Linked DNA regions of Homo sapiens. Each later gene encodes a partner of the first gene's protein in a complex. Each region holds a gene or a part of one and is shown on either strand. Other genes may lie near its edges. A codon is read from its position in the direction of its gene.

Region 1 (7,307 bases):
TTTTTAAAAGATGTTGCTGTAGATCTAACAATATGCATCCCTCAACTCATCAAAGTCAACATTTTACCCCCTCATACTTCACATTTCTCACCTGACACATCATGCTTTCTTTCTACTTTACCCTTTCTTATGTCACTCTGACACTTTCTGGGTTTTACTTCATGCTTCACAAATGTCACAACAGTGTGATTTCATTTACACATCCATTCCTTTGTCCTATTGTCATATATTTTACTTTTACAGATATTATATACTCCAACTTACAGTGTTTTTTTAACAGTCATTTGTCTTTTATGTAAATTATGAAAAGAAAACATGGGCTTTTATATTTATTCACTTATTTACCATTCCTGGCATTCTTTTTCCCTTCTGTAAATCCTATAGCATTCCTTGTAATATAGGTGACAGATTCTCTCAAATTTTAACTGAAAATGTCTATTTCACTCTTATTTTTTCTTTCAACACTTTAAAGATGTAGTTTCACTGTCTTCTGGCCTCTGTTGTTTCTGATGAGAATCAGCTGTTCTTATGCTTGTCTCCCTGTCTGTGATGTTTCATTTTTTGTTGGGTTTTTTTTTTTTTTTTGAGACAGGGTCTCGCTCTCTCACCCAGGCTGGGGTGGATCTCAGCTCATTGCAGCCTCCAGGCTCAAGCAATCCTCCCACCTCAGCCTCCCAAGGAACTGGACCACAGGTTCACGCCACCACTCCTGGCTAATTTTTTGTATTTTTGACAGAAATGGGGTTTCACCATGTTGCCCAGGCTGGTCTCAAACTCCTGACCTCAAGTGATCTGCCCGCCCCGGCCTCCGAAAGTGTTAGGATTACAGGCATGAGCCACCACGCCCAGCCTAAATTCTGATTTTTAATGTTTAAGTAAATTTGTTTTCCTTGCAACCATCAATAAAATGTTTTCTATTATTTATATGTAGGATAATCTTTTTGGGTTTCTTCCAAGATTTTTCCTTTACCTTTGATTTTTCAGTAGTATGACCTTAATGTACCTGGTTGTGGTTCATTTTATCCTGTTTGTGGTTCACTGAGCTTCTTGGATCTGGAAGTCTGTTTTTCAGCAGATTTGGGAAGTACGGGGATATTATTTCTTTAAATATTTTTTTCTGCCTCAATCTTATTCGGTTTTTCTTCTAGGACTCTTATTACATATGTATTAAACCACTTCATAGTGTTCGTAGGTGCCTGAGGCTCTATTCTTCTTCCTTCCATGTTTTTTTTCCCACTATTCTTCAAATTGGTTAATTTTTTTTTTTTTTAAGACAGAGTCTTGCTGTGTCACGCAGGCTGGAGTGCAGTGGCACAATATTGGCTCACTGCAACCTCCACCTCCCAGGTTCAAGCATTCGAGTGATTCTCATGCCTCAGCCTCCCGAGTAGCTGGGATTACAGGCATGTGCCACCACACCTGGCTAATTTTTTGTATTTTTAGTAGGACATGGTTTCACTATGTTGGCCATGCTGATCTTAAATGCCTGTCCTCAAGTGATCTGCCCGCCTCGGCCTCCCAAAGTGCTGGGATTACAGGCGCAAGCCGCTGTGCCTGGCCCAGATTTGTTGATTCTGTTGACTTATTCCATCACCTCTGTCTGCTGTTAAACTTCCCAGGGAATTGTTCATTTCAGTTATTGTGCTTTTCAGTTACAGAATCTTAACTTTGTTACAGTTTACTTTAGCAGTCCCCAACCTTTTTGCCCCAGGGACTTTTTAGCACCAGGGGGTTGGTTTAGGGATGATTCCAGCACATTGTATTTATTGTGCACTTTATTTCTATTATTATTGCACTGTAATACATAATGAAATAATTCTACAACTCACCATAATGTAGAATCAGTGGGAGCTCTGAGGTTATTTTCCTGCAACTAGATGGTCCCATCTGGGGATGATGGGAGACATTGACAGATCATCAGGCATTAGATTCTCATAAGGAGTATGCAGCCTAGATCCCTCACATGTGCAGTTCACAGTAGGGTTCACTGTCCTATGAGAATCTAATGCCACCACTGATCTGACAGGAGGCAGAGCTCAGGCACTAATGTGAGGGATGGGGAGCAGCCGTAAATACAGATGAAGCTTTGCTTATTGCCCTGTCACTCACCTCCTGCTGTGTGACCCAGTTTGTACCAGGCTGTGGACCTGGGGGTATATTGGGGGTTGGAGCCCCCTGGTTTACATTTCTCGGTTCAGATTCCTTATCTCTTCACTAATCAAAACACTATTTTCCCAAGCCCTTCTGATTTGGTCAGACTCAATCTCTGAACTATTTTCATTACAGATCATGTTGTGGCTTGATTTTAGGCTTTATTGGAGAGGATCTAGAGAAGACTTACTGTATATGTATTGACCAAATTCTTACTTAGTTTATCCCCTTCTTGCCATATAAGGGGAAAGAATGAGATGTGAAAACATCTTATTTTTCTGTGAATTTTCTTTTTAAACCAGGGATTATATGCTACTTTGGTACTTAGTTCTGCCTACTTGGTCATAATTAGGGCTAGAGTAGACCTCTACTTTTTTAAGAAATGAAATTGTAAGCTATGTGTTTCACATGTTCTTTTAGCTAAATTTAACTCTGGTAATTAACACTGAATTTAATAGATGAAAGATATGTTGCTTCAGTTTTTGATTGGATGTCTAAAGATTATATTAGCTCTTACAGATTTTTGTTCTTTTTTTTTATAAGTAAGATATACGCCAGGTTCTCTCTGAAATTTCACTTTTCTATTGGCCCTCAAGTAGGACTGAGAAAACTAACCTTCAGATTGATGCCAAAGCATCATTGGAAGTAGAGACTTTCTCTCCTTTCTCCATTATGTAAAGTTAAGGAAGATATCCTGGACAGGGCTGAAAGTCTTCTAAGAAAACCTAAAGCGGCCGGGCACGGTGACTCATGCGTGTAATCCCAGCACTTTGGGAGGCCGAGGTGGGCAGATTACCTGAGGTCAGGAGTTCAAGACCAGCCTGGCCAACATGGTGAAACCCCATCTCTACTAAAAATACAAAAATTAGGTGGTGGCACACCCCTGTAATCCCAGCTACTCAAGCAGGAGAATTGCTTGAGCCCGGGAGGCAGAGGTTGCAGTGAGCCGAGATCGTGCCACTGCGCTCCAGCCTGGCCGACAGAGTGAGACTCTGTCTCCAAAAAAAAAAAAAAAAGAAAAAGAAAAGAAAAAAAGAAAACCTAAAGCAAGCATAGATGAAATGTGGAATGTCACAGCTGCCAGGGAAAATACAACTTTAGGAAAATTATTACTGGCAAGAACTTGAAGATCTTAATGAGAAGAACTCTAAAGTAAATTTAACTAAAACAAGGTGTTGCTTTTAACTGTGGCTACGGGCAAAAGAACTAAGAAGGTATTTGGTTTGGTTTTGCTTTTTCTTGTTCTGTTATTATTTTTAAGGCAAGAAATGTATGTTTTAATTGAAGGCAAGAGTAAGAATAGACAGGTTTAACTTACAGATAAGTAGATATATAAAAGCAGCATCTCAGTTCACCGTGCATTGCTAGATAGGAAGGACCAAGCTAACTGTTAGTTCAGATGTGACTGAGCAATTTTGGTGTGCATTTGGACTTTTTTTTTTTTTTAAATGGAGTCTCATTCTGTCACCCAGACTACAGTGCAACGGCACAATCTCAGCTCACTGCAACTTCCGCCTCCCGGTTCAGGCATCAACCTCCCAAGTAACTAGGATTATAGGCGCCTGCCACCACACCTGGCTAATTTTTGTATTTTTACTAGAGACAGGGTTTCACCATGTTGGCCAGGCTGGTCTCGAACTCCTGACGTCAAGTGATCCGCCTACCTCGGCCTTCCAAAGTGCTGAGATTACAGGCATGAGCCATCACGCCCAGCCTGTATTACATTTGGATTTGATAGTAAACAGAGTTTGTGAACCCAGAGGTTTTTAATTGCTGGGACAAAGGGTATTCGTATCACTGTTTACAACATTCAACCACGAAGTTCTATTTTCTTAAACTTAACTAAAAGGTAGAGAATTAGACTTCCCTGGGCAGGTATGATATATAAAGTACATATTTATGTCATTAGTGGAACCCAGCTTGAGATAAATTAATGGAGCTTCCATAAATTTTCTTTATTCTCATTAGGAGCCAGCTTTTGGCAAAAAAAAAAAAAAAGGCCTATTTCTTCTGTGTTACTCATACTTACATGCTACCCAGAAGTCTCTGGCCTAGCCAGGAGATTTTAAACAATTGAAATAATTCATGTTTTCGTTTTAGGGTTCACCTTTAGATGTTCTTAAAGATGAAAGGGTTCAGTACTGGATTGAGAATTATAGAAATTTATTAGATGCCTGGAGGTTTTGGCATAAACGAGCTGAATTTGATATTCACAGGAGTAAGTTGGATCCCAGTTCCAAGCCTTTAGCACAAGTAAGTACATTGTTTTGGAGAAAATCAAATTGTAACATGTTGATGTTCAATTTAATAAGTTACTATTAGCTCATTATTTTGCTTATATTGAGTTCCCATTGATGTCTTTGTCTTTTGTAGACTGAACTTTGTCCTTGATCTTCCTGTCCTTTGGTTCTGCTTCTTGCTAACAATCATCTCAGTGGCTTGAGCTTTAGTCGCAGATAGAACAAACCACAGCAGGCCTGAAGTTTTCCAGTGTATTTCCAGCCCTTTCAGATTCTAAACTATTACATTATCTTATAAATTCCACTTGTGTATTAAGTTTTTTAGCATTATTTATGTGCAGTAAGGCAGGATTTGGGTTTTTTAGACTTTAGCAGTATTACCTATATCTATATGTTTAATTACACATGGAAATTTTTTTTTAGCATTAGTTTAAAAAATGAGATTGTTGTCACATAAGGTATACCACATTAAATCACTGTGTCTTAGTTCAGATATTAAATATTATGTTATCCTCAATATGAGCACTGGATGGTGCTATTTTCTTATTTTAGGAACTTGAGAAAGTGCTTATGTTAAAACCAGAGTGTTGATAAAATAGCATTACATGGTAGTACATGTTACTAATCTATATGATAAGTGATTAAGAGCCTAGCAATTTACGGTAAAAACAAAATGAACAGCTTCTATTGCTATTATTCTAAAAATTTAACTATTTACCATTATAAGTTTGTTAACTCTCTTTGTCTTAGGAACAGCGTTTTCTTTATAAGAAAATTTTGTTCAGAAGATTATATCACTGAACTGTGGTTTAGAAGTCATATTGGGATATTTTGTAATGGCCCAGTGTGAATTCTGAAGTCATTGTTATTTCTAAAATGTTGGAGTCTAAAGTTTGAGTTCTTCCACCAATTTCAGTGGTATTAGTAAGAATATAATTAAAAAGGAAGTACCCCAAAAATGTAATTGCTAGGTATAAATTTTAAATGAAAGCTAGTCAACCTTAGCAGATCAATTTTGAAATATAAAATAAAGTTTTTTAAAAGTATTTAAAAATAATTTGTTAGGCGCACACTAAGTTATTTAGCATTCCATTATGGTTTGCATTACATTTATTTTTTCTTTCATTTGTTTTGTAGGTTTTTGTGAGTTGCAATTTCTGTGGCAAGTCAATCTCCTACAGCTGTTCAGCTGTGCCTCATCAGGGCAGAGGTTTTAGTCAGTATGGTGTGAGTGGCTCACCAACGAAATCTAAAGTCACAAGTTGTCCTGGCTGTCGAAAACCACTTCCTCGATGTGCGCTTTGTCTCATTAATATGGGAACACCAGTTTCTAGCTGTCCTGGTATGACATAATTTTACAAAATACTTTTATGAACTGAAATGATTCTTACATAATTGAGTTAATGTTGCAAATAAAATACAAACTAGCTAGAGTTATTATTTCTAAGAAAGGGCAGTTTACTAGCTTGAAGGCTTTTATGTTCCTATAATTTATGAACTATGAAAACTAAAAGCAAAATCTATATCTATTGATACTTCAGGTAATTTCACAAGTTCTGACCAATTTAAAGTTTGTGAGAAAAACTTAAATATGAAATAATCTTAATATATTACCATTTTCTTATCACTGTTTCCACTAAGAGGAGTTCGTTCAAATTTGATTATTTAAAAGTCAGTATACCCGCACCTATTAACAGATACTTTGTATTTCTAAGGATCTTTTGACATCATTAAAGCACTTTGACATTTCTTCCTTCATCTTCAAAACCTACCTATAAAATACATGAGAGAAGGGTCAGTTGCAGTGGCTCATGCCTGTAATCCCAGCTCTTTGAGAGGCCAGGGTGGAAGGATTACTTGAGCCTGGGAGTTTGAGACCAGCCTGAGCAAAATAGTGAGACCCCATCTCTATAAAAAATTTTTTTGGCCGGACATGGTGGCTCACGCCTGTAATCCCAACACTTTGGGTGGCCGAGGCTGGCAGATCACAAGGTCAGAAGATCAAGACCATCCTGGCAAACATCGTGAAACCTCGTCTCTACTAAAAATACAAAAAATTAGCCGGGCGTGGTGGCACACACCTGTAGTCCCAGCTGCTTGGGAGGCTGAGGCAGGAGAATTGCTTGAACCCGGGAGGCAGAGGTTGCAGTGAGCCAAGATCATGCCACTGCACTCCAGCCTGGGCGACAGAGCAAGACTCTGTCCTAAATTTAAAAAAAAAAAATGTTTTTAATTAAAAAATAATAATAAATAAGAAAATACATAGAGAAAGTATTAGCCTAGAAGTCAGGTCCCTTGACTTCTAGATTTTGATGCTGCTTCTGCTGTTTGTCAGTTACCTAGTAAATTTATATATATATATATATATATATATATATATATATATATATATATATATGAAGGCAATACGTAATGTTTTAAATGTACATTTTAGTTTTGATTTAAATTTTAATCAAGGATTTTTATTTTATACATTGCATACTGACCACTCTTTTATGTTACTCTGGTCCTAATAAACAGAAAATAACAATTTGGAATATATACATATACACACACACACAGTGTTCGTTTTTGTTTGTTTGTTTGTTTTGTTTTTTGAGACAGGATCTCACTCTGTCACCCAGGATAGAATGCAGTGGCATGATCTCGGCTCACGGCAACCTCTGCCTACTGCCTCCTGCCTCCTGGGCTCAGGTGATCCTCCCACCTCAGCCTCCCAAGTAGCTGGGACCATAGGGTTTCACCCTGTTGCCCTGGCTGGTCTTGAACTCCTGAACTCAAGCGATCCACCTGCCTCAGCTTCCCAAAGTGCTGGGATTACAGGCATGAGCCACCATGCCCAGCCTATATTTTTTAATGGTTAGAAATATTAAGATTATTTTTTATTCTTTATAGTAAACATATGGGAAAAAATTT
Region 2 (7,307 bases), on another chromosome or scaffold:
TGCTGGGCAAAAATGAGTGTGGAGAGAAATAGGCAAGACTTGTATCTATAAGAAGTAATGTCCATTGTTTCAGTTTTATCTTACAGGTGATGTGAATAGGGAATAATGGGATCAGATGGATCTTCTATAGGTGTGACAAGTGTTTTGGAGGGAAACATGGTGGATTCACGGCTAGGATGCTATGAAGACAGTCCAGGTGGGAGAGTACGTGGCTTTGGGATAGTAGTAGCAGTGGCATGGAGATAAGTGGACAACTTGAGAATAATTGAGAAGTGGTATCAATAGGATCTGGTGATTGATTGGATTTGAGAACTGAACTGAGGAAGAAGGGGGAAGGTGTTAAGATGATTTCCAAGGTTCTGGCTTAAGAGTTCAGTGTGTAATTTCAATGTGTGTAATTTCTTGAGATAAGGAACTCTGGGAACAAGGCAGATTTGGGTAGAGTGTGGCAGCATGTGAAGGTAAGTTAATTTTGGTCATGCCGAGATACAAGTGTCTGCAAAGCTTCTGAGAGCCAAAAGCAGTGTCTCAGAGGCACACTACTCAGTCTTACAGGAGAAGAGAGCACTTGTCAGGTGATCAGATGGGCTTCGCAGGTACTAGACAAAATTCTTGAGTCTAATAGTCAGATCTTAGGCAGGGCCAGCAGTAGAGAAGGAACTAGTGTTACTCCCGTGGGCTCTGCAATTCCAAATGTTACCATCTGGGTTACCAAGGGGATCTTACACCTTCTACCTTCCTAGATTGTTGGTGTCTGCAGAGAGGCTCAGTCTTCAACAGTGCTGTCCAGTAGAATGTGCTGCAGTGATGGGAAATGGTCTTAGAGATTTTCATGGAGTTTTAAGCTGTAAAAACTATGAGCCCTATTAATAGCACATTTTATAGAGGCTTCATGAAGTGTTGGGCTTGTTAAAGTAAATTTCAACCTGAGCTGAGCAGAATGAATATGTAGACATAAGCCCAAAAACGTAAAAGGTGTATCATTGGCCACGCGAGGTGACTTATGCCTGCCATCTCAGCACTTTGGGAGGCTGAGGTGGGTGGATCACTTGAGTCTAGGAATTCAAGACCAGCCTGGACAACATGGTGAAACCCTTTCGCTACAAAAAGTACAAAAATTAGCTGTGGGGATGATGGCGCATGCCTGTAGTTCCAGCTACTTGGGAGACTGAGGTGGGATGATCACCTGAGCCTGGGAGGTCGAGGCTGCGGTAAATCAAAATTGCACCACTTCACTCCAGCAGTGTCAAAAAAAGATTTTTTTCTAAAACATAGGAAAAGAAAATATTTCATAAGTAAGATTTGAGTAAAAAGATAAATAACTTGCAGTTAGTTCTGAAAGAAAATACAGGCAAATAGAAATTACCTATTTTTTTTTTTTTTGAGAGTCTCACTCTGTCACCCAAGCTGGAGTGCAGTGATGCAATCTCAGCTCACTGCAACCTCTACCTCCCGAGTTCAAGTGATTCTCCTGCCTTAGCCTCCTGAATAGCTGGGATTACAAGTGCGTGCCACCACGCCTGGCTAATTTTTGTATTTTTAGTAGAGACGGGGTTTCACCATGTTGGCCAGGCTTGTCTTGAACTCCTGACCTCAGGTGATCCACCCACCTCGGCCTCCCAAAGTGCTGGGATTACAGGTGTGAGCCACCACGGCCGGCCTAGAAATTACCTAAGTATTTCTAAATTACCTAAATAATCCAATGTTAAAAATAATCTGAGATTGCATTTGAGTCTAGTCTCTTAGCTAACAGAATAAATCTAGACTGGGGGATTCCCTGTATTATGTCATGTGACAAGGAGCCTGAGGGTGGAGCAGTTCTGGGGTTAGGTAGTGACTCAGTTGCTCAATGATGACATCAAGGACCTACCTAAATATTTTCCACTTTTTTCTTGCTGTCATGCTTAGTACACTGGTGATAGCTCCCTCTTATGATCACAAAAGAGCTGCACAATGTCAGGTTTTACATGCTAATACAAAGAAGGGTATTCTAGAAAAAAACACCTTTCCTAGAAGTATCTTAGCAGGCTTCTTATCAGGTGCTGGCGGCTGGAGTTTGGTCATCCAGCCATGCCTTAGCTGCAAGAGAGTGAGACAGCAAGTGTCTGGCATTTTCAGCATCAAAAACGAGGGGAAGTGGTGTTGGGGAAAGAGTGTCTGCAGGTGGGGGTGTGTGCTATTGACTTGGGAAGTAATCAAACCTATTAAGTTCAGCACTTTTTGGAGTTCTGTTGCTGGTTCTTTGAGGTAAGCATTGTTTGAAGGTTCTTATTTAGATTGAACGTGGAGGAGATGTGATAGTGGACTATGTAGTATCGTTATTAATACCTGTTTATCTTTTTCTCTCTTTTTTTTTCTTTGAGATGGAGTCTCACTCTGTTTCCAGGCTAGAGTGCAGTGGCGCAACCTTGGCTCGCTTCAACCTTTGCCTCCCGGGTTCAAGCGATTCTCCTGCCTCAGCCTCCCCGGTAGCTGGGACTACAGGCACCCGCCACCATGCCCAGCTAACTTTTGTATTTTTAGTAGAGATGGGGTTTCACCATTTTGGCCAGGATGGTCTCCATCTCTTGATCTTGTGATCCGCCCACCTCAGCCTTCCAAAGTGCTGGGATTACAGGTGTGAGCCACCACGCCCGGCCTGTTTATCTTTTTCTAAGTAGTATCACCATTTAGTAGACAGGAGACATTTGCCAAATTAACCAGTGTTGGATATATTTGTTTTTATTTGTGAGTGAAAATACTAAAACAGATCTAGGATTGATAGTGATAATAGAAGTGCCATGTGTTTATATAGGTTACCGGGCATTTTTATGTGTGTTATGAAGTTTGAATCCTACCAACCACCTTGTAAGTAGAGGAGACAGCTTTTATTAACACTGTTTTACAAATGAGAAAACTGAGACCAACAGAGTGAATGACTAGTCTAAGGTCCAGAGTCAGGACCAGAAACAAAGTCTTTTTTGTTCATTCTCTTTATTTACACTCTCATTGAGGATCTTATTTGGCTCCTTCTGATAGGAGAAGCTTTAGATAACCTTAATTATTTTTATTTTTATTTTATTTTTTTTTTTGAGATGAAGTTTCACTCTTGTTGCCCAGGTTGGAGTGCAATGGTGTGATCTCGGCTCACCGTAACCTCCGCCCCCTGGGTTCAAGAAGTTCTCCTGCCTCAGCCTCCCAAGTAGCTGGGATCACAGGCATGTGCCACCACACCCAGCTAATTTTGTAGTTTTAGTAGAGATGGGGTTTCTCCATGTTGGTCAGGCTGGTCTCGAACTGTCGACCTCAGGTGATCTGCCTGCTTCGGCCTCCCAAAGTGTTGGGATTACAGGCGTGAGCCACCGTGCCCAGCCACCTTAATTAATTACAATATATAGCTTGCCTCAGGTAAGAAAAAAAAAATCTCACTTTTTCAACATTTCATAAGCAGCATGGACTGTACTAAGAGCTGAAGGAGCTTACAGCGCCTAGGATATGGATGAGGATGGTCACCTGCTAGAGATGGCAGCACATACCTGCCTGGTAGGGTGAGAAGTTTCAGCTGATGATGTTTGAGCATGAATCTTGAAAGACAGAGGGTGTTCTGCAAGCAGAGAGGAGGCAGGAGCAAAGACAAGGGCGTGGGGTCGAGGCGGTGGGTGGGGAGGCTAATGCAGGAGAGAGACAGGGGAGGGGCAGGCCAACAGGCCAGGCAGATTTTGGAGAGTGGTGCTTGCCAAGTCTGATCTCTATCCTGGCAGCATTTGGACTTTTGCAGGGTCCAGTAGAGTCACAAGGTTGTATTTACCTTTTAGGGAGATGACTTTGGCAGCTGTGTGGACTGGGAGCAGGAACTCAGGGATGAATGCAGTAGCCCACTATGATGTGGAATGAGGACATGCACTGTGGCGTGGGATGAAGAGGGACCGGGGAGACTTGTCTAGGAGGCACCAGCTGTAGGTCACGTGAGTCTTGGTTTCTGACCTAGCTGATGGTAGTGCCACTTGTTGAGATGGGGACTGAGCAAAGAGGAGTGAATGTGGTAAGCACAATTTATTTCAGACATATGTTTGAGGTGCGTTTGGAACATCCAGGTGGGGATGTGTAAAGGCAGATGGATAGAATAGCTGAGATTAGTTGTCTATTGCTGCATGACAGCATTATCACTCAGTGGCTGAAACAGTACAGATTCGGTATTTCAATGTCTGTGGGTCAAGAGTCAGGCCAGACTGGGAAAGACTCCACTTCGGAGCTCACCTGGTTGTTGGCAGCACTCGTGTTCCTGCCACGAGACCCTCCCTTGTGTCCTCACAGCATGGCAGCTGCTTCTGCAAGGCCTGAAAGCAGGAGAGTCTTCTCATGAGGCAGGCGTCACAGGCTTGTGTGTTGTAGTCACACGGGTGTTGTCCCACCACCTTGCCATGTTCCGTCCCCTGGGTAGAAAACAAGCCACGGGCCCCACTCACACTCATGGGGAGGAGCCTCCACAAGGGCGGGACCACCAGGAGGTGCGGGTCATGGGGGCACTTAGAATCTCTCTGCCACAGTACGGGTGTTCCTCCCACTTTACGGAGAACTTGCTGAAGGTCGTTACAGCCTGGATTCAAACACGTTCTGGCTGCAGCATGTGTGCTCTTAGCTCCACCTGTCCTATTTCTGGCCTTTGGTAGAAGGCCAGAATCTATCCCCTGAATTGCAGGGGATAGATTTAGGAATTATTGGTTTATAGGTACTGAAACCATGGGTGTAGAAACCATGCATATTCTGGCCGGGCGCAGTGGCTCACGCCTGAATCCCAGCACTTTGGGAGGCCGAGGTGGGCAGATCACGAGGTCAGAAGATCGAGACCATCCTGGCTAACATGGTGAAACCCTGTCTCTACTAAAAAATACAAAAAAAACAAAAAACATTGGCCGGGCGTGGTGGCAGGCCCCTGTAGTCCCAGCTACTCCGGAGGCTGAGGCAGGAGAATGGCATGAACCTGGGAGGCGGAGCTTGCAGTGAGCCGAGATCACACCACTGCACTCCAGCCTGGGCGACAGAGCCAGACTCTGTCTCAAAAAAAAAAAAAAAGCATATTCTGATTGTGTAGGCCCCAGGAGGGGGCTGAGATTCTGGATTTCCCAGAAGCTCCCAGGCTGCTGCAGACCACACAGTAGAAGCAAGGATGTGGATGAGATTGCTTAGGGTGATTGGATGGGTGAGAAAGATCAAGGAGAGAACCTTGAGGTGTGTACCAGCTTGGTAGAGATTTTAGGAAGAATGTTGGGATGAAAAGAAGGTCAAGTGAAGAATGCTGTAGAAAGGTGGGATGGGGAGATGTCTCCACCCAGTCTCCTACATGCAGGGGGTTAGGTGCTGCCGTTCTGTCCAGGATATTCAATCTTAGAAGAACCTAGTAGAAAACTCTGATCTACCACTGCCTTCATTATCCTCTTATTCTGTATTTATAGATAAAGAAATAGAATTGCAAGGATGAAATAGCCTTTGCATAGTTTCCTTTTATTATCACTTAACTCAATTCCTGCTGGGCGCAGTGGCTCACACCTGTAATCCTAGCACTTTGGGAGGCAGAGGCGGGTGGATCACCTGAGGTCAGGAGTTCAAGACCAGCCTGACCAACATGGTGAAACCCTGTCTCTACTAAAAATACAAAATTAGCCAGGCGTAGTGGTGCACGCTTGTAATCCCAGCTACTCAGGAGGCTGAAGCACGAGAATCACTTGAACTCAGGAGGCGGAGGTTTCAGTGAGCCAAGATTGCGCCATTGCACTCCAGCACAAGAGTGAAACTGTCTCAAAAAAACCTCAATTCCTGTTACCAGCTTTACTTTTTTATTTACATTCAAATACTTAGGCAATGTGTTACTCTTTTCCTAAGAAAGATGTTAGTGGCTAATAAATCAAGCCCTTTTTTATTTTTTATTTTTGCAGTTGAGTCTTACTGTGTTGCCCAGGCTGGAGTGCAGTGGCGTAATCTCAGCTCACTGCAACCTCCGCCTCCTGGGCTCAAGCCATCCTCCCACCTCAGCCTCCTGAGTAGCTGGGACAATGGGTGTGCACCACCATGCCCAGCTATTTCTGTATTTTTTGTAAAGATGGGGTCTTGCTGTGTTGCGCAGGCTGGTCTTGAACTACTGGGTTCAAGCAATTCTCCCACCTCAGCCTCTCAAAATGCTGGGATTACAGGTGTGAGCCACTGTGGCCAGCCAAGACCTTATTGTAATTAAATTTTTATTAAAGCGTTTCGAGCTAAATGTACATTATTAAAGGAGGAAACGTGGGAGGTTGTATTAATTTCCTAGGGCTGCCATAACAAATTACCACAAATCAGGTGGCTTAACACAGAAATGTATTCACTCACAGTTCTGGAGGTCGGAAGTCTGAAATCAAGGTGTTGGGGCTGTGCTTCCTCTAGAATCCTTCCTGGTCTAGTCCAGCTCCTGCTGGCTCCGGGAGTTCTTTGGCTTGTGGCAGCATAACTCCAATCTCTGCCTCTGTGTTCACATGGCTGCCTCCTCTCTGTCTCTGCGTTTCTTCTCTTCTTTTTAAAGAATACTTACTGCACGTTGGATTTAGGACCCACCCTAAATCTCGGATGTCATTCTGAGGTCCTTAATTACATTTTCAAAGACGCTATTTTTGAATAAGGTCACATTCACAGGGTCTGGGGGTCAGGACTTGGACATATTCTTTTGGGGGCTGCTGTTGAGCCCACTACAGAGGTGAGCACTACATGATTGTGAGCAGTGTGAAAAAAAGGTGAGATGCAGTGATGTGTGGATTTTTGCACATTTTATTTCTAAAATGTTAATGTCAATTGTTTTTCCATTAGGAAATATGCAAAAGCTGAAACTCTTATGACAGTCACTGATCCTGTTCATGATATTGCATTCGCTCCAAATTTGGGAAGATCTTTCCATATTCTAGCAATAGCGACCAAAGATGTGAGAATTTTTACATTAAAGCCTGTGAGGTGAGTTTTAGAAGCATTTATGAATTTGAAAATACTCTTGCCTTCTGATTACCTTTGTTTGTGGAGGAGAGAGTAGAGGTAACTATGATTTGGTTTATATTTCTGCTCTGGAAGTTTTACTTAAAAATGTAAACTTTGAAATGTTTTTTAAAAATGGTCTTTTACAGTTACTTTTTTTTCTTTCTTTTTTTTTTTATTGATCATTCTTGGGTGTTTCTCCCAGAGGGGGATTTGGCAGGGTCATAGGACAATAGTGGAGGGAAGGTCAGCAGATAAACAAGTGAACAAAGGTCTCTGGTTTTCCTAGGCAGAGGACCCTGCGGCCTTCTGCAGTGTTTGTGTCCCTGGGTACT
Region 3 (7,361 bases), on another chromosome or scaffold:
GTCAGGGGTCACCTACTTTTTCTGTGTTTCAGCATCCATGACAATGGAGATATAACCCTCGATGAGGGAGAAGGCAAAGAACGTGATGGAGCTGGGTTCAGGACTGCTAGAGGCTGCCTCCTTGGGGGTGCTGGGGAGGGATGGGAGGTTTAGGGGCTCTACCAGGCACCCAGCCTACTGCCCCTGCTCCCGATCAGCCTCCAGAACCCTGGGAAGGAGCTGGTATGGTGGCCTGGGCAGGCTCTGCCATATCTGCTACCCGCCCAAGGGTCCAGCCCTCTGGAAGGTGTGGGTGGGGATGGGGGAGGACAATGAACCCAGCCTGTGCCAAAAACAAAGGATTCCACGGTGAGAGGGCCAGACCAGGGCATGGCTCAGACGACCCCACTGGAAAGGGATCCAGCTTTGGGGCAAGAACCTTCCCCGAACATCAGTGAAGCACAAGTGAGCATCATGGGCTGCCAGGAACCCCAAGAGAGGACAAGCAAGAGGTGCAAAACTGATAGATGGGCGGAAAGTGGTGGGACAGAGTGTAGGGAACAGTGCTGTGAGGACAAAGACGAAGTTCCAAGGTCCACCTGTGCGAGTAGAAGAGGACATCTATGAGGGTGGTGGCGATGGCTGGAAGCGTCTCAGGGTCCAGTGTGAGGACACAGAAGCGGTTCTGTGGGCTCTGGATGGGATGCACCGTGGGGCTGGGCCCTGCTGGAGGACAGCAGCAGGTGAAAAGGTGTCCGTGGGCTGGGGCGCCCCCTGGTGGCTAGTCAGGGAGAGGCGTGGGCCAGGGGCAGGTCTTGCTATCCAGGAACTGGCCGGGGTCCTCCTGCCCCACTGGGGCCCAAAAGGGAAGGGACCCAGTGGGAAGAGGAGGCCCTGCCCAAGTCCAAGTGTCAGGGGGCGGCCCTCACCATGCTGAGTGCGGGGAAAGCCATTGCTGGAATCATCCCTCGTCACAGGCACAGGCTCTCCGCCCACCTCGCGGTAAATGTCGAACTCCTGGGCCAGCGTGTGGATCACCACGGACAGGTCCTGCTCCCGCACCTGGGCCACAGCAGATGGCACATCACATGGGCTCCCAGGTACCTATATCCACCCTGCTCTGCATCAGCACCAGCAGGAAACTCACCAGGATGAAGTCCGTCTGGTAAGTGGACAGCATCAGCACAGACACGTGGTGCTCGGCCAGTGGCGCGATGACCGAACGGGCGATCTTGGTGACCCCAGCAGCCTGCACTGCCGCACCGCTGTGAGACGACACGTTCAGCACCAGCCATGTGGCCTCAGCTACTTGCAGGAACTCAGATGGGGGCAGCTCTGTGGGCAGGGGACATGTCAGGTCAGGGTCTACAAGGCTGGCCCCTGCCCCTCTCTGAGCCTCAGTTTCCCTTTCTGTGCCTTGGAGGGCTCCATCAAGGTAAGGGCAGGTCTGGAGGCTGGGGCTCCTGAAGTCCCTATGTGTGCAAAGACTGAGAAAGGCTTCAAGTGCTGGCCTGGTGGCATTGAAACTTCCCACTTAAGATCAGAGGTCCAGATTCAGACAGACCTGGGTTCAAATCCCAGCTTTGTTAATTTGTCTTATGACCTGGGGTGGGTGATTTGAGTCTCAGTTTCCTCATCTGTAAAATGGGACGACAATATCTACCTCACTACGGTGTCTTCTGTGGGTTAGCAGAAGCTTTGTACCACATGGCACCACCAGGGGGCATTCGCAGATCAGGTTGGCTGGGGGATTGCCTTCCCCTTTTGCAGACCCAGACTTCTGAAGTAAAAACAGGGAAACTAAGGCCTGCAGTGGAGCATGGGGACAGGCTAAGCTCCAGCTAGCTGGCCTGAGACTCCAAGCCTGTGAGGATGGGCAGGGCCAGCAGCAGGAGGAGGAGCTAGGCGTCAGCTCCAGGCCCCAGGGAGGGCCCAGGCTGGCGTCCAGTCCTGAGCTGGGGCCAGGGCCTGGGTGGCTGCTATTCACCCCAGCACAGCCAGGAGGCCTCCAGGACCCTCCCCTGAGATGGCTGCCTGCTCCTGCATTCCTTCCCTCAGACTCCTGGAGTTTCCAGACCAGCAGGGGAGGAGGTGACCCAAACCAGAGAGTAAGACCAGGAGGAAATAATACCCAGGGATTTCTAACAGCAGCACTTGACTGGAATCATAACAGAGGCCCTTCTGCAGGCCTAAGACTGCTGAGTGCCCCTCAGCGGTTTTAAGTTTATAAAGGCCTCATGGGACCCTATGTATCAGAACCATAACTATACCCATTTTACATAAGAGAAAACAGCTCAGAGAGGGAAAGTGATTTGCTCAAGGGCACACAGCCAGGGAGTGGTGGAGTAGGATTCGAACCCCGACCCATCTGCTTTTAAGGCTTAAGCTCTTGGGACGGATCCCAGCAACTGGTGAGAACCCTACAGAAGGGGAGCACGACAAGCCCCTCCCGTACTCCCGTTCCCCAGACCAACCCCCACCTTTAAAGCCCTCCTCGTCCACCATAAGCGTGTAATCCTCAGGGGTCTCCGTCAGGCTGAAGAACTTGCACCTGGTTGGGGGTGGGGAGCATCTTCAGCTTGGTGTGGAGAACTAGGGGTCGGGAGTGGATTTCTCTCCATCTGCCCCGAGACACCCCCGCGACCCTGGGCCGGGCGCCTTCTTGCCCTCTCGGCCTTTAATTTCCAGGCCAATGGGATGTTAGCCCCATCTCGGGGGTTGGGGGCTACTTTCCGGCCTCCCGACCTCTCCAGGAACCCTCCACCCCTCCACTCCTGGAGGGAGGAGAGGTTCACACCCGCGGCGACAGCCCCAGGGGCGTCGGACCTTGGACCCCCTAGTCCAGCCCCTCTGACATGAAGGGAGGCGTCCTGGAAGGAGCTCCCCGCAGTGACCAGGTAGGAATGCCCCCATTTGACACTACTGAGTTAAGCATTGCCCATCCCAGGCTGTTTGCGCTTTGCCCCTGGGAGGGGGCCTCACGGGGCCGGATAGGCGGCGGTCCCCCAGGCCGGATGGCGGCCGGACGGGGAGAGTCCTCCCCACCCGCTCCCGCCCGCCTGCCTGCCTGCCTTACGGCGATCCTAATCCTCCGACCCTGGCCCGGAGCGAGAGCAGAGCCCCCAGCCCCTATCTGCGCTCCCGAACCCGGGCGCGCACCGGCTGCGGCGGGGCAGGAAGAGCAGCTTGATGAGCGGGTGGGTGTAGAGCCAGAGACCGGGACGGGCGACGCTCAGCACCCGCACCCGGTGTTCTAGGATGTGCAGCTCCATCGCGGCTCGCGCGGACCCGACCCCGCCGCCAACTAGACCCAGGCCGCACGGGAGGCGGGGCGGCGGGGGTGGTGCCCGAGCCTTAAAGGAGCCGCTGCGCTGCCGCGTCCACGCCGCCCGCTGCGAGGCTGACCCGCCCAGCCAGGCGCGGCGTCCGGCTCCTTGACGGCCACGCCCCGCGGGAAGAGAAGCCTATTGGGTGGTCACGCCTCCTCCTAACGCCAGAACCTCATCCCGCTTTCCAGCCAGCCCACCGAGACCGCCCCGAACGGCTCCGCCTTTTTTAGTACTGGCTCGGGGATAGACCCCACCCCGTCTGACTCCTCCAGGCCCCGCCCCTGACGCGCCCCCTCCCTGGGCTCCGCCCTTTCCGCGGAAAGCCAGCTGCGCAGCCGGTGGGAGCATCCCGGAGGGGACGTTTCTGTCCTTCTGGCACACACGTGGGTTTCATGATTGAAGTCCTTGAGACAGAAGGGACACGAAACAAACTGGAGCTCGGCTAGGACCAGAACGCTGCCCCCAAATCCCCGGAGCAATGAGAGGCACAGGTCTGCTGTGCAGCGCTGTCCCCCGGGCGCCTTTCGCTCTCCTGCCTCTCATGGCTGCAGGGGGCAGGGCCGCCAACACAGGATTGCGATTGATACCTACCCTTCCCCGCTTGCGAGGGGGCTGACAAATTGAAACCTGGCCTGGTAGCCCCACTTGTTCCTTTCATCCAACTTTCAAAATAGAAGGCTCCTCACCAGGGGCACACAGAGGTAGAATCCTAGCCACCTCTGCCTGAGCGACATACTTTGGGTTAGGGGGCTGCAGGTGGCCAAGGCCTAAGGCTTGAGGTCCCTCGATACCAACAAAACCCGGAAGTGCTTGAGCCAGTAATGCCCAGTGCTCAGACTTTGGTGGGGGAGGCCCTTGCAGCTGAGGTTCAGTGAGTACTCAGACCTCAAGCCTGAAACTTGAGCCCCAAAGCCTGCAGCCCTTAGCTAGCCTGTGCACATCTAAACTTGCTTCAGGTTCAAGGAGGCCCCCGGCACTGGCAGACACCCCAGATCTTATCAGGCCTTCACAGGTCTAAGACCCCCCCAAGGCTAAGCAGGCATCAGCATGTCCATGTTGGCTCCATGCAGGGCTGAGAATGCTCCAGGGGACCCTTGCCTGGCCTGAGCACCCTGAGGCCTCAGATGTGAGGCTTTGAACCAAGTAGACTAAAGCAGGCCTCAGGCCTGATTGGGACCCAGCAGGCCTAAGCAGGCCCTCTGCCTGCTCTGGAGCCCCCACCATAGGCAGATGGAAGCCAAGCTAAGCCTCCTCCCTGGACTCTCGGGCTTGACACATTCCTGTGAAACACTATGTAGCCACCACATCCTGGCCTATCCCCTGGAGGACTAGGGGAAGGAGGAGCTTCTCAAAGGCTGAGCCCATCTCATCAATGGCAGGTGCAGACAGAGTGGGAAACCATGGGGCTGAGGGGAAGGAGGCAGGAAGTGGAGTGGCCTACCCTGATAGTCTCTTGAAACCCTTCACCTCCCTAGGCCTCAGTATCCCCAGCTGTACCAGGACAGGATGTTCCAGGCCCAGGCGAAGGCTGAAAGCTCCCAGGGAGGCTCTGCTCCTCCCTCTCCTGCCCCCTCCCGCTATGGCCTGGCCTGGCCCAGCTTGGTCATCTGCCAGGAATAGCGCTATTGTTTGACTGGAAAAGCTGCTTCCTCAGCAGAAGGGGGGCCTCTCCCAGGGACACCCTGTCCTTGCCCTCACCAGTCATCAGGTTGTGACCGCAGTGCCTGCCTGGGCCCTCAAGGGCAGAGTCAGGTCTCCTGGAGCCCTGGTCAGGAGAGGAAGCTGAGTGAGGGGCTCTTGGTGCAAATCCGGCTGAGGCTTTCCCATTCAGCTCCTGTTTCCTCGTCTGTTAAATGGGGCTAATGGAGCCTACTTGACCAGTCCAGCCTGGCACTTGGCAGTAAATCGAAGGCGGCATTTTATCAAAGAACCACAATTCGCCCCCCTCCCTGAGGGCCTGGGCTGAGCCTGTGAGGACATTCGTGGTGCTCCACTCCGGGCCCCGTCCCTGACCCCAACCCAGAATCAGCTCTCAGAAACTTACTGGAGCCTGAGGTAGCATCCAGGCCAGGACTTGAAGGAGGAAGACCCTGAAACCTCCTCCTTAGGAGTCCCTGCCCCCTTGGTGGGTGGGTGAGGACCAAGGCCTAGGGAGCACGCCCTGCTCTGCCCAGCACTGAGCTCCAGCCCTGGTGTCCCTCATCTGTGGCAGAAGGTAGACATAAGGCAGTGGGGATGGGGTGAGTGAAAATGGGGGTTAAGAATGGGGGCTGACCAGGGACTTGGCATGTCCTCTGGCAAAGGTACCTCTCAGAGAGGCTCTGGTGCTGGGCTGGGGCCCAGGAGAAGGGGCTCTGTAGGGCAAAGAGAAGAGATGCTGAGCACCAAGGTGACCAAGGTGGTACCCCCTTCCCAGCCCCTAGCTGTACACGAGCTCTCTATACAAGGCTGTTTATTTCTGTACAAAACCATGTTTCTATTTTACACAAAGAACACCCCACCCTTTCCCCTCACACCAGCACCCTAACCCTGGGGAGCATCCCCCAGGAGGAGGGGGCTGAAGGAGGCCCCACCCCCCAGGCCCTAGCTTCTGCCTGCCCTGGCTGGGCCAGCCTGAGTGCCACTGTAAAGAAAATAAATAAGGAGGCTCAGGCAGAATCTGTGTTGGACCAGGCAGAATCTGTGTTGGACCAGCCAGACTCCAGCCCAGCCCAGTGGCCAGGCAGCTTGGCCCTCAGAGGGTGGGCAGGATGTGGAATGTCAGTTCATGAACCGTGTAGTTATATGGAGACCCCGCCCTGGAGGCCTTAGCTGCCAGGGTTACAAGTAGGTGTCCTCACTCTCTTGGGACGTCAAGCTCTCCTGGGAGCGGTGGTGGGCTGAGACCTGGGGAGCCAAATCCTGAGGGGCTGAGTCCTTGGGGGCTGAGTCCTTCGGGGGCACATGCTGTGGGGGACATGCATCTCCTGCAGCGGCCACCACCATGGCTTGATTTGGGGCTGGGGGCTTCTCCAGCTGCCCTCTCCCCTTCATCTGTTTCCGCTGCTCCTTCTGGGCCTGCTTGGGTGGCTTGGGCTTGGCTTTGGAGCCAGGGAGGGGGGCATCTAGGGGCAGGCGGATGGATGGTGAAGGTTGTAGGGCAGGCCGGGGACCAGGTTCTGCATCCAAGATAGCCTTGGCACCATGCAGCCTGGGCGGGGAGCGGCACTGCAGCTCACCCCGGGTCTCCTGCCAGCGCCGCAGCTGAATGAGGTGTTCGCGCTCAATCTGGCGCTCTGTCACGGGCAACTCCACCACCTGCAGGGGCAGTGACACAGGCAAGTGGACACCAAGAAGAAGGACCTTCCCCTTCTGCCTCCCAGCCTGGGCCCCCAGTCTTCCTCAGCATCCCCCAGCCTTGGCCACTAAACACTGACCCCAGGAAGGATGAGGGTCTAGTCCCAAGCTGCAGTCACGAGCCCCACAGCTGAGTGCCAGGTGAGCTGGACACTTGAGACCCACCGCCTCAGAGGATAAAGCTGCCCACAGCTTCACGAGTCCACCTGCCTGACTATGGGGCTAAAGGGGTAAGACCCAGACAGACAAAAACCTGCTCTCTGCCAACCTGTCACCCACCGCTGCCCAGGGCAGCCTGGCTGCTTAGGCTCAAATTCCAGCTCCACCTGGGTGGGTGACTTTAAGGGGAGTTGCTTAGTGATTCTGCCTCTGTGAGCCTCCATTTCCTCATGTGTAAAAGCTGGTCACGCATGTTCCACCTAATTGCCCCTGAGAGACAAGTATCCATAAAGAAAGAACAAAGAGAAATAAGAGCCAAGGCTGCGAATGGGGTACCAGGGAGGAAGACGGGGCCGTGGGTCAACATTCTTCTTCATTCCCAAGCGGCTCGGATCCAGAAGGCCCTGCAGAGCCAAGCCTCTCTGTGCCCCATGCTCTTCACCAGACAGAAGGATGAGGTCCACCCACATGTTCTGTGTTGCCTAGCAATGGTCCTGGCATAGGATCCACCCTCAGGGGCTGAGGGTTAGCGGGACCCCCTTCAAAGGACCCCCACCT
Region 4 (7,307 bases), on another chromosome or scaffold:
TTAATTGATTTTGCATGCCTAATGCTTCTCGACCTGTTTCTCAGTATCTTTGTTTGCTTATTCTTTCTCCTTAGATTGTAAACTCCTTGATTCAAAGTCCATATCTTCTTTCTTTTGAGCATCTCAGAGTCTAGTATGTTTTCCAGTTAATGGGCATACAATGCTGTGCTGCTACTGAGAAAGGTTTTCCAGAAAATAGTATTTGATTTTTTTTTTTTTTTTTTTTTGAGACAGAGTCTCGCTCTGTCGCCCAGGCTGGAGTGCAGGGCGTGATCTCGGCTCACTGCAACCTCTGCCTCCCAGGTTCAAGAGATTCTTCTGCCTCAGCCTCCCAAGTAGCTGGGACTACAGGCGTGTGCCACCATGCCCAGCTAATTTTTGTATCTTTAGTAGAGACAGGGTTTCACCATATTGGCCAGGCTGGTCTCGTACTCCTGACCTGGTGATTCGCCCACCTCAGCCTCCCAAAGTGCTGAGATTACAGGCGTGAGCCACAGGGCCCGCCGTATTTGATTTTTAAAGGTATTGAGGGGGTGGGAACTTTGCTTATGACATGATGGGTTTAGCCTGTGCCTTGGACTTAATAGACACTTAGAGGCTATTGGTTTCTGCTCAATGGCTCCAGGCCCCATGGGATTTCAAGTCGGGGAGGTATTCCTCAGATTTGGTGTCAACAAAAAGAAAGCCAAATCCATTTTGTCTTGGCCTATTGTTATTATTGTTACTTTTTAGCTTCAGAGAGGATACTGAAACTTTTATAATGAAGGCAACAAAGTCTTTCATTATTTAGGAAAAGAGGGACAGATCTTAAATGTGTTATAGACTGCCTTTTTTTTCCTCCCTGCCAACCCAACTTACTGATGAAACAGCATTTTAAAAAGTCATGTGAGGCCGGGTGCAGTGGCTCACACCTGTAATCCCAGCACTTTTTGGGGCTGAGGCAGGTGGATCACTTGAGTCCAGGAGTTCCAGACCAGCCTGGCCAACATGGCAAAACCCCATCTCTACTGAAAATACAAAAATTAGCCAGGTGTGGTGGCACATGCCTGTGATCCTAGATACTCGGGAGGCTGAGGCAGGAGGATGGCTTGAACCCAGGAGGCAGAGGTGGCAGTGAGCTGTGATTGTGCCACGGCACTCCAGCCTGGGCGACAGAGCGAGACTCTGTCTCAAAAAAGTAAAATAAAATAAAAAGTCATATGAGTTAGTGGTTAAGTAGATGACCCACTGAAATTATTACACTGTGTCATTTCTCTGATGTTTGCTTAATGAAAAATTTTTAAGCCTAGTGTTTCTCAAACTTTAGAGTGCACATAACTCCCCTAAAGAGTTGGTTAAAGTGTAAACGCTGATTCAGTAGGTCTAAGTGGGGCCTAAACTTATGCATTTCAATAAGGATCCAGCTTTTGCTGCCCCCAATGTAGCAAGGCATCAGGTTTTATATGGAAGACAGGTGGGATTGCTTCATGGTTTCGGTTCTTGTCCTTGCCAGTTTGAGTTTGTATTTCTCTTTGATCTGTCCAGGTTTGGTCGCTGGCTACGGTAGCTACAGATCTTTGCCTTGGTCCGAAATCTGACCCAGATTTGGAAACACCCTGGGCTCGACATCCATTTGGGCGGCAGCTGCTGGAGTCCCTGTAGGTTTTGAGAGCTAAAAATGAGAAAAATGAGTGATGTCCATTTTTGGTCTGTAAACACTTGAAATGTCACCACCTAAGAGAAAGGTGCAGAGGCCCGAGGAATGAAAGGAAGGAGTAGGATCTTTCCTTTCAGTGCTGAAATAATTTCTGTGCAGAACAAACTTCTTATAGCAGACAGAACCATACATTACTTGTCATTTATAACAAGGATTTGAGACCCCTGAGACTCATGTATCCTTTAGAGATTCATGCTTTAGTCCATAAATCACATCAGTCTGAATACAGGAGTTTGAGCTCATGAGATGGTAAGTTTCTTCTTGAAAGCTCTAGGGTCTCACCCTTGAGAATGGATTAGAGAATTGCATGTTGGTGTTCATGTTTGCCAAAGACCACGACGCTTTCACCCTGTTAGGCAATTTGAGAAAACATTGCCTTTGCGTTCAGTTTATTGCACTGACATATGGAAAACTAGGGTATACTATACAAAATAATTTAACACCAAGTAAAACCACTTGAATCTCCATAACTTGGAGGCCCAGGGCCTGGGGAGAGAAACGCTCCTGACTTCAAGTTGAAGTTTGCTTAATTTATGCATTAAGGCCACCCCTGGGACACGTGTTCGTGCTTCCGTTTCCTTGTCACTAACACAGGGATGATAAGGTTTACTCTACTTATTTCGTGTAAGACTCAAATAAGATAGTGAGTGTGAAAACACAAATATTAGACATTGAGTGATAGGAGGACATTAATATTATTCATTCTTAAAGGCAAAGCCCCTCTGATTCCTTACTCACATTCTAGCATAATCTTCCTGAAAGGACAAAGGGGATATGAGTACCTAAAGGACAGAAACACTCCTTGTTGTTCTTACCTAATAGCTCATCTTCATAACTGCACCTCCAGAGTCGATTGCCTGCTAGCATGCTGTGGCGGTCCAGTGTCCTCTGAGCTCCTTCATGTAGCTTTAGGTTATATAAATGACATGTGTGGGAATCCCCCAAAAGCAGTGTGATTCTTCCTTGGAGCTGGGAAGACAGAGCATGTATTGGCTCGCTCAGATGTCAGGTTAGTCCACTTAGTTCTTGGAGAAGCCACATTCATGTTTAAGCCCATGCCTGAAAGTTAGCCAGAGGCTTTGAGATGCGTTCTGTAGATCATTTGTAGTACGTGGATGCCTTATATTCCAAAACAAGTTTAGGCAAACTCAAAGTAGGTCAAACTGCCGGATCTGTAGAAAGCCCCATTTCCTGATGGGTTTTTGAGGCAGAATCAAGACTCCTCCCTTCCCACCCCTGTGGCAGTAACACGCCATGACTGTGACCGCTTTCCTCCTCAATCCCTCCTCCTGACTTGTTTTCTTTCCTCTTATCTTTTCCTCAGGTTGGCTCACTATTGCCGGCTCCGGGATGTTCAGACACTGGCGATGCTCTGTAGCGTGTTTGAAGCCCAGTCTCGGCCTCAGGGGCTACCAAACCCCTTTGGGCCTTTTCCTAACCGTTCTTCTAATCTTGTGGTGTCCCATAGTCGATATGTAAGTTTGTCCTTTTCTGGTTTTGTCTGATTTTTTTTTTTTTTTTTTTTTGAGACGGAGTTTTACTTTGTTGCCCAGGCTGGAGTGCAATGGCATGATCTCAGCTCACTGCAACCTCCGCCTCCTGGGTTCAAGCAATTCTCGTGCCTCAGCCTCCTGAATAGCTGGGATTACAGGCATGCACCACCACTCTTGGTATATTTTTGTGGTTTTAGTAGAGATGAGGTTTCACCATGTTGGCCAGGCTGGTCTCGAACCCCTGACCTCAGGTGTTCCACCTTCCTTGGCCTCCCAAACTGCTAGGATTACAGGCATGAGCCACCGTGCTTGGCCTGCTGTTTTCTTAATGTGAACTGTCATGGGGAATGGTATTCTCATGCTAGTCCTGTTGGTTCTTCTCTTCCCTTCTGTAGCCTAGCTTTACCTCTTCTGGTTCCTGCTCCAGTATGTCAGACCCAGGGCTCAACACTGGCGGCTGGAACATAGGTTTGTATGGAAATGACTTAGCCCACGCTGGATTTTTAGTTCTCCCAGAGCTGTGCATATGTAACCTTTAGTTGATGCTTAGTCTCCATATTTTTTCTTATTTCTTATTTCTCTTTACATTTACTGTGATAGGGATACTCTTGCTGGAGGCCTGACTTTGCATGTTGAACAGACCACGTTCTGGGGGTCTTTGTGCCTTGCTGTGTTGCTTTTCATCTCTTAACCTTGAGAAACTGACAATGGGACTTCCCACTGTTCACCCCCAAAACCTAACCCTTATCCTTTCTCCTTCACATGCTCTTTCCATGTTCATCTGCCACCTACCGCTTCCCATGAATGCTTTCAGTGTAGACAAATACAGCTGGGCCTGACTCCAGTTGATCATAAAGCTGTTTGCTGAGTAAGGTGTATTTGTGTTTCCTGGATTTAAAAAAAAAAAGGTTTTTAAAATGATCTTAATTTTCCTGATATCAAAAGTAGCTCATGCCCAGTGAAGAAAAGCAAGCAAAAAGTATTAGAGAAGAAAATTGTAATTATTGATCTCCCACCTAGGAATAGCGTCCATTAACATTCTAGAACATTTGCATCCATTCTTTGTGTGCAGGAGTGTGGTCATTTGATATATGTGACTTTGTGTTCTATTTTTCATTATATCATGAGCAAATATTGTTCAAAAAGTCCTCGTAAATAATGACTATGTAATGTTCTACTGTATCTCTGTGCCATCATTTGCTTTATTTATTTATTTTTTTTAGTTTTTTGAGATGGACTCTTGCTCTGTCGCCAGGCTGGAGTGCAATGGCATGATCTCGGCTCACTGCCCCCTCTGCCTCCCAGGTTCGAGCGATTCTCCTGCCTCAGCCTCCTGAGTAGCTGGGATTGCAGGCACGCACCAGTACGCCCAGCTAATTTTTGTATTTTTTTAAGTAAAGACATAATTTCACTATGTTCGTCAGGCTGGTCTCAAACCTCTGACCTCAGGTGATCTGCCTGCCTGGGCCTCCAAAAGTGCTGGGATTCCAGGCATGAGCCACAACGCCCAGCCCATCATTTGCGTTAGCATCATGTGTGTGTACTTAGTGATCAAGTTCTCTTAGTAATAAATACCTGCGCAAAAAGGCAAGGGTAGGAGAGAGTTCTATTTAGTTATATTTCTCAGAATATTCAGCCTCGCTTAACATTTCTTCTGGGAAATCCATTGGCCACGTGCTGTCTTATGAGACTCTTCAGATATTTTCCATGCCTTCTCTGATTGCCATCTTCCCTTCCCATTTGATTTTCTTCAGCGGGAAGAGAGGCAGAGCACTTGTCCTCCCCTTGGGGAGAATCCTCACCAGAAGAGCTCCGCTTTGGGAGTCTGACCTACAGTGATCCCCGTGAGCGAGAACGCGACCAGCATGATAAAAATAAAAGGTAACCACCCTCCCAGGTGAGAGCTGCAATGCCAGGACTCCAGGCAGGACTCCAGTTTCTCCACAATCACAACTCTTACTTTTTTTTTTTTTGGACACAGAATCTTACCCGGTCACTAGGTTGGAGTGCAGTGGCGGGATCTCGGCTCTCTGCAACCTCTGCTTCCCAGGCTCAAGTGATTCTCCTGCCTCAGCCTCCTGAGTAGCTGGGATTACAGGCACACGCCACCATGACTGGCTAATTTTTTGTATTTTTAGTACAGACAGGGTTTCACCATGTTGGCCAGGCTGGTCTCAAACTCCTGACCTCAAGTGATCCACCCGCCTCAGCCTCCCAAAGTGCTGGGAGTGACAGGTGTTAGCCACCGTGCCTGGCCAGGACTGTTGCTTTAAGAAGGGTATATTAAGTGCCATTTAGGATGAAGCTTGTTTTTTCTTAAAGGAACTGACAGGAAATCTTTTTAACTTTATCCAGGCTCCTGGACCCCGCCAATACCCAGCAATTTGATGACTTTAAGAAATGCTATGGGGAAATCCTCTACCGTTGGGGTCTGAGAGAGAAGCGAGCTGAAGTGTTGAAGTTTGTCTCCTGTCCTCCTGACCCTCACAAAGGGATCGGTGAGTATGAATTTCTCTCTCTTCCTTTCACTGTCTGAAAGATCCTGTAATTTAATATGTCCACAGCCTCAGACTTGGAATGAAGTTTCAGCTTCTCATTTCTAAGCAGAAATTTCTGAGGCATTTTGAGTCTATTCCAAGCATCTGAAAAGCCCTTGCATTTCGTAACAGGATGAATTTTTTTTTTTTTTTTTTTTTTTTTTTGAGATGGAATCTCACTCTTGTTGCCCAGGCTGGAGTGCAGTGGCGTGATCTCAGCTCACTGAACCTCTGCCTTCTGGGTTCTAACTTCTCCTCCCTAAGCCTCCCGAGTAGCTGAGACTACAGGCGCCTGCCACCATGCCTGGCTAATTTTTGTGCTTTTAGTAGATGGGGTTTTACCACGTTGGCCAGGCTGGTCTCGAACTCCTGACCTCAGGTGATCTGCCTGCCTCGGCCTCCCAAAGTGCTGGGATTACAGGTGTGAGCCATGGCGCATGCCCAGGATGCAGTTTCTATTGCAACAGAAGTAGTTGATATACAGTACTCCAGCGCGGATGAGAGGGATGGATATTTCTTCATTTATTCCACTGTGTGTCCGACTCCTCTTAGGCACAGTGCCCACACATTCCTTCCCCCCATGGAGCTTACAGCTGAGTAGGGGGGAAAATTAAGTAATTTCAAATTGTGATAAATATTCGCAAGCAAACAGAAACGATGTGGGGGCAGGGAGAACAGAGAGGGAGAATCTTAGAAGAGGAATTGAGGTGTGTTGAGAAGGCCTCCAAGGAGCTGAGGTCTGAAGGTTTAAAGGAACCGTGGAGCCATCGGTGCAGAGTGGTGAAAAGAGCATCCCACACTGAGGGACAGGCCCCAGGGAAATGACTGTCGTTGTGAACAAGCGAAGGAAGGTGGCGTGGTGTGGTTGGAGTACAGTGGGGAGAAGAGTGATATCAAATTAGAGTGTAGAGAACTTAGGGTTATATCAGGCAGGGGCTTGTAAGTTGCGGTAAAGAATTTGGATTTGGCCGGACGTGGTGACTTACGCCTGTAATCCCAGCACTTTGGGAGGCCAAGTCAGGCAGATCACTTGAGGCCAGGGGTTTGAGACCAGCCTGGCCAACATGGTGAAACCCCGTCTCTACTAAAAATACGAAATTAGCCAGGCGTGCTAGTGCACACCTATAATCCCAGCTACTCAGGAGGCTGAGGCAGGAGAATCGCTTGAACCCAGGAGGCAGAGGTGGCAGTGAGCCAAGATCACGCCACTGCACTCCAGCCTGGGTGACAGAGCGAGACTCTGTCTCAAAAAACAAAAAGAATTTCAATTGTATCCAAGTCCAATGGTAAGCTTCCAAGGGCATAAGAAGTAAGCAGTGTGCTTTGGGTTGTGTTTTAAGAGGGTCACTGTGGCCTTCCTACGAGGAAAGGATGGGAGGAGGGCAGATCAGAAATAGGAAGCCCGTTCAGAGACGTTGTAGCGGTCAGAGGCAGACAGCCCGGTCTGAGGGTGGCATCGCTAGAGTTGGAGAGAGATGATGGATGGGTTAAAATATATTTTAGAGCTAGACTCAGTGTGACTTGTTTATAACTTGGATGTGGGATCAGGAAGAAAGATGAAACTTGGACGATTCCTAGATT

Evidence for each region.
Region 2: the proteins of MIOS (region 1) and SEH1L are in contact, whole or in part, in a cryo-EM structure (PDB 7UHY), measured with the Homo sapiens proteins. Residues at the interface, in NP_001357005.1 of Homo sapiens: Arg279, Arg316, Ser317, Phe353, Glu354, Arg355, Ile356, Ser357, Leu358, Ala359, Trp360, Pro362, Leu366, Met367, Trp368, Ala369, Cys370, Gly371, Arg372, Leu374, Tyr375, Glu376, Cys377, Thr378, Glu379, Glu380, Glu387, Asp389, Ile390, Ala391; in NP_112493.2 of Homo sapiens: Met1, Phe2, Val3, Ala4, Arg5, Ser6, Ile7, Ala9, His11, Lys12, Asp13, Leu14, Ile15, His16, Asp17, Val18, Phe20, Phe22, His23, Gly24, Arg25, Met27, Trp47, Ser173, Ser174, Ser175, Asn230, Leu231, Gly232, Arg233.
Region 3: the proteins of MIOS (region 1) and CASTOR1 are in contact, whole or in part, in a cryo-EM structure (PDB 9LVK), measured with the Homo sapiens proteins. Residues at the interface, in NP_001357005.1 of Homo sapiens: Ala83, Asn84, Val109, Pro110, Lys111, His112, Ala113, Arg114, Asp134, Lys135, His136, Arg137, Asn184; in NP_001032755.1 of Homo sapiens: Val94 (codon at 1,219), Ser116 (codon at 1,153), Thr117 (codon at 1,150), Tyr118 (codon at 1,147), Gln119 (codon at 1,144), Thr120 (codon at 1,141), Asp121 (codon at 1,138), Thr188 (codon at 646), Tyr236, Leu255, Thr256, Ser257, Ser258, Ala295, Tyr296.
Region 4: the proteins of MIOS (region 1) and WDR59 are in contact, whole or in part, in a cryo-EM structure (PDB 7UHY), measured with the Homo sapiens proteins. Residues at the interface, in NP_001357005.1 of Homo sapiens: Asp705, Trp710, His711, Arg713, Ala714, Ile718, Ser721, Lys728, Pro729, Leu730, Ala731, Gln732, Val733, Phe734, Val735, Ser736, Cys737, Asn738, Phe739, Ile744, Lys780, Pro781, Leu782, Pro783, Leu787, Cys788, Leu789, Gly793, Pro795, Gln819; in NP_085058.3 of Homo sapiens: Tyr871 (codon at 5,609), Arg876 (codon at 5,624), Glu877 (codon at 5,627), Arg879 (codon at 5,633), Ala880 (codon at 5,636), Glu881 (codon at 5,639), Leu883 (codon at 5,645), Lys884 (codon at 5,648), Pro889 (codon at 5,663), Pro890 (codon at 5,666), His893 (codon at 5,675), Lys894 (codon at 5,678), Gly895 (codon at 5,681), Ile896 (codon at 5,684), Glu897, Phe898, Gly899, Val900, Tyr901, Arg906, Glu908, Val909, Arg910, Thr912, Phe922, Gln923, Ala925, Ile926, Cys927, His928.

What each region holds. Positions count from the first base shown.
Region 1 is NC_000007.14:7,590,729-7,598,035, forward strand, and holds part of MIOS (GATOR2 complex protein MIOS), read left to right. Parts: intron 1-4,251; coding exon 4,252-4,404; intron 4,405-5,528; coding exon 5,529-5,733; intron 5,734-7,307. UniProt on the Homo sapiens protein: As a component of the GATOR2 complex, functions as an activator of the amino acid-sensing branch of the mTORC1 signaling pathway. The GATOR2 complex indirectly activates mTORC1 through the inhibition of the GATOR1 subcomplex.
Region 2 is NC_000018.10:12,971,939-12,979,245, forward strand, and holds part of SEH1L (nucleoporin SEH1), read left to right. Parts: intron 1-3,794; exon of another isoform or gene 3,795-3,944; intron 3,945-6,813; coding exon 6,814-6,954; exon of another isoform or gene 6,955-6,955; intron 6,956-7,307. UniProt on the Homo sapiens protein: Component of the Nup107-160 subcomplex of the nuclear pore complex (NPC). The Nup107-160 subcomplex is required for the assembly of a functional NPC.
Region 3 is NC_000022.11:30,286,247-30,293,607, forward strand, and holds the start of CASTOR1 (cytosolic arginine sensor for mTORC1 subunit 1), read right to left. Parts: upstream 3,260-7,361; 5' UTR 3,252-3,259; coding exon 3,139-3,251; intron 2,531-3,138; coding exon 2,460-2,530; intron 1,315-2,459; coding exon 1,127-1,314; intron 1,042-1,126; coding exon 909-1,041; intron 703-908; coding exon 579-702; intron 131-578; coding exon 17-130; intron 1-16. Other genes in the region: TBC1D10A (TBC1 domain family member 10A), read right to left, coding at 6,129-6,605. UniProt on the Homo sapiens protein: Functions as an intracellular arginine sensor within the amino acid-sensing branch of the TORC1 signaling pathway. As a homodimer or a heterodimer with CASTOR2, binds and inhibits the GATOR subcomplex GATOR2 and thereby mTORC1.
Region 4 is NC_000016.10:74,884,033-74,891,339, reverse strand, and holds part of WDR59 (GATOR2 complex protein WDR59), read left to right. Parts: intron 1-1,524; coding exon 1,525-1,637; intron 1,638-3,020; coding exon 3,021-3,171; intron 3,172-3,584; coding exon 3,585-3,657; intron 3,658-4,943; coding exon 4,944-5,070; intron 5,071-5,544; coding exon 5,545-5,687; intron 5,688-7,307. UniProt on the Homo sapiens protein: As a component of the GATOR2 complex, functions as an activator of the amino acid-sensing branch of the mTORC1 signaling pathway. The GATOR2 complex indirectly activates mTORC1 through the inhibition of the GATOR1 subcomplex.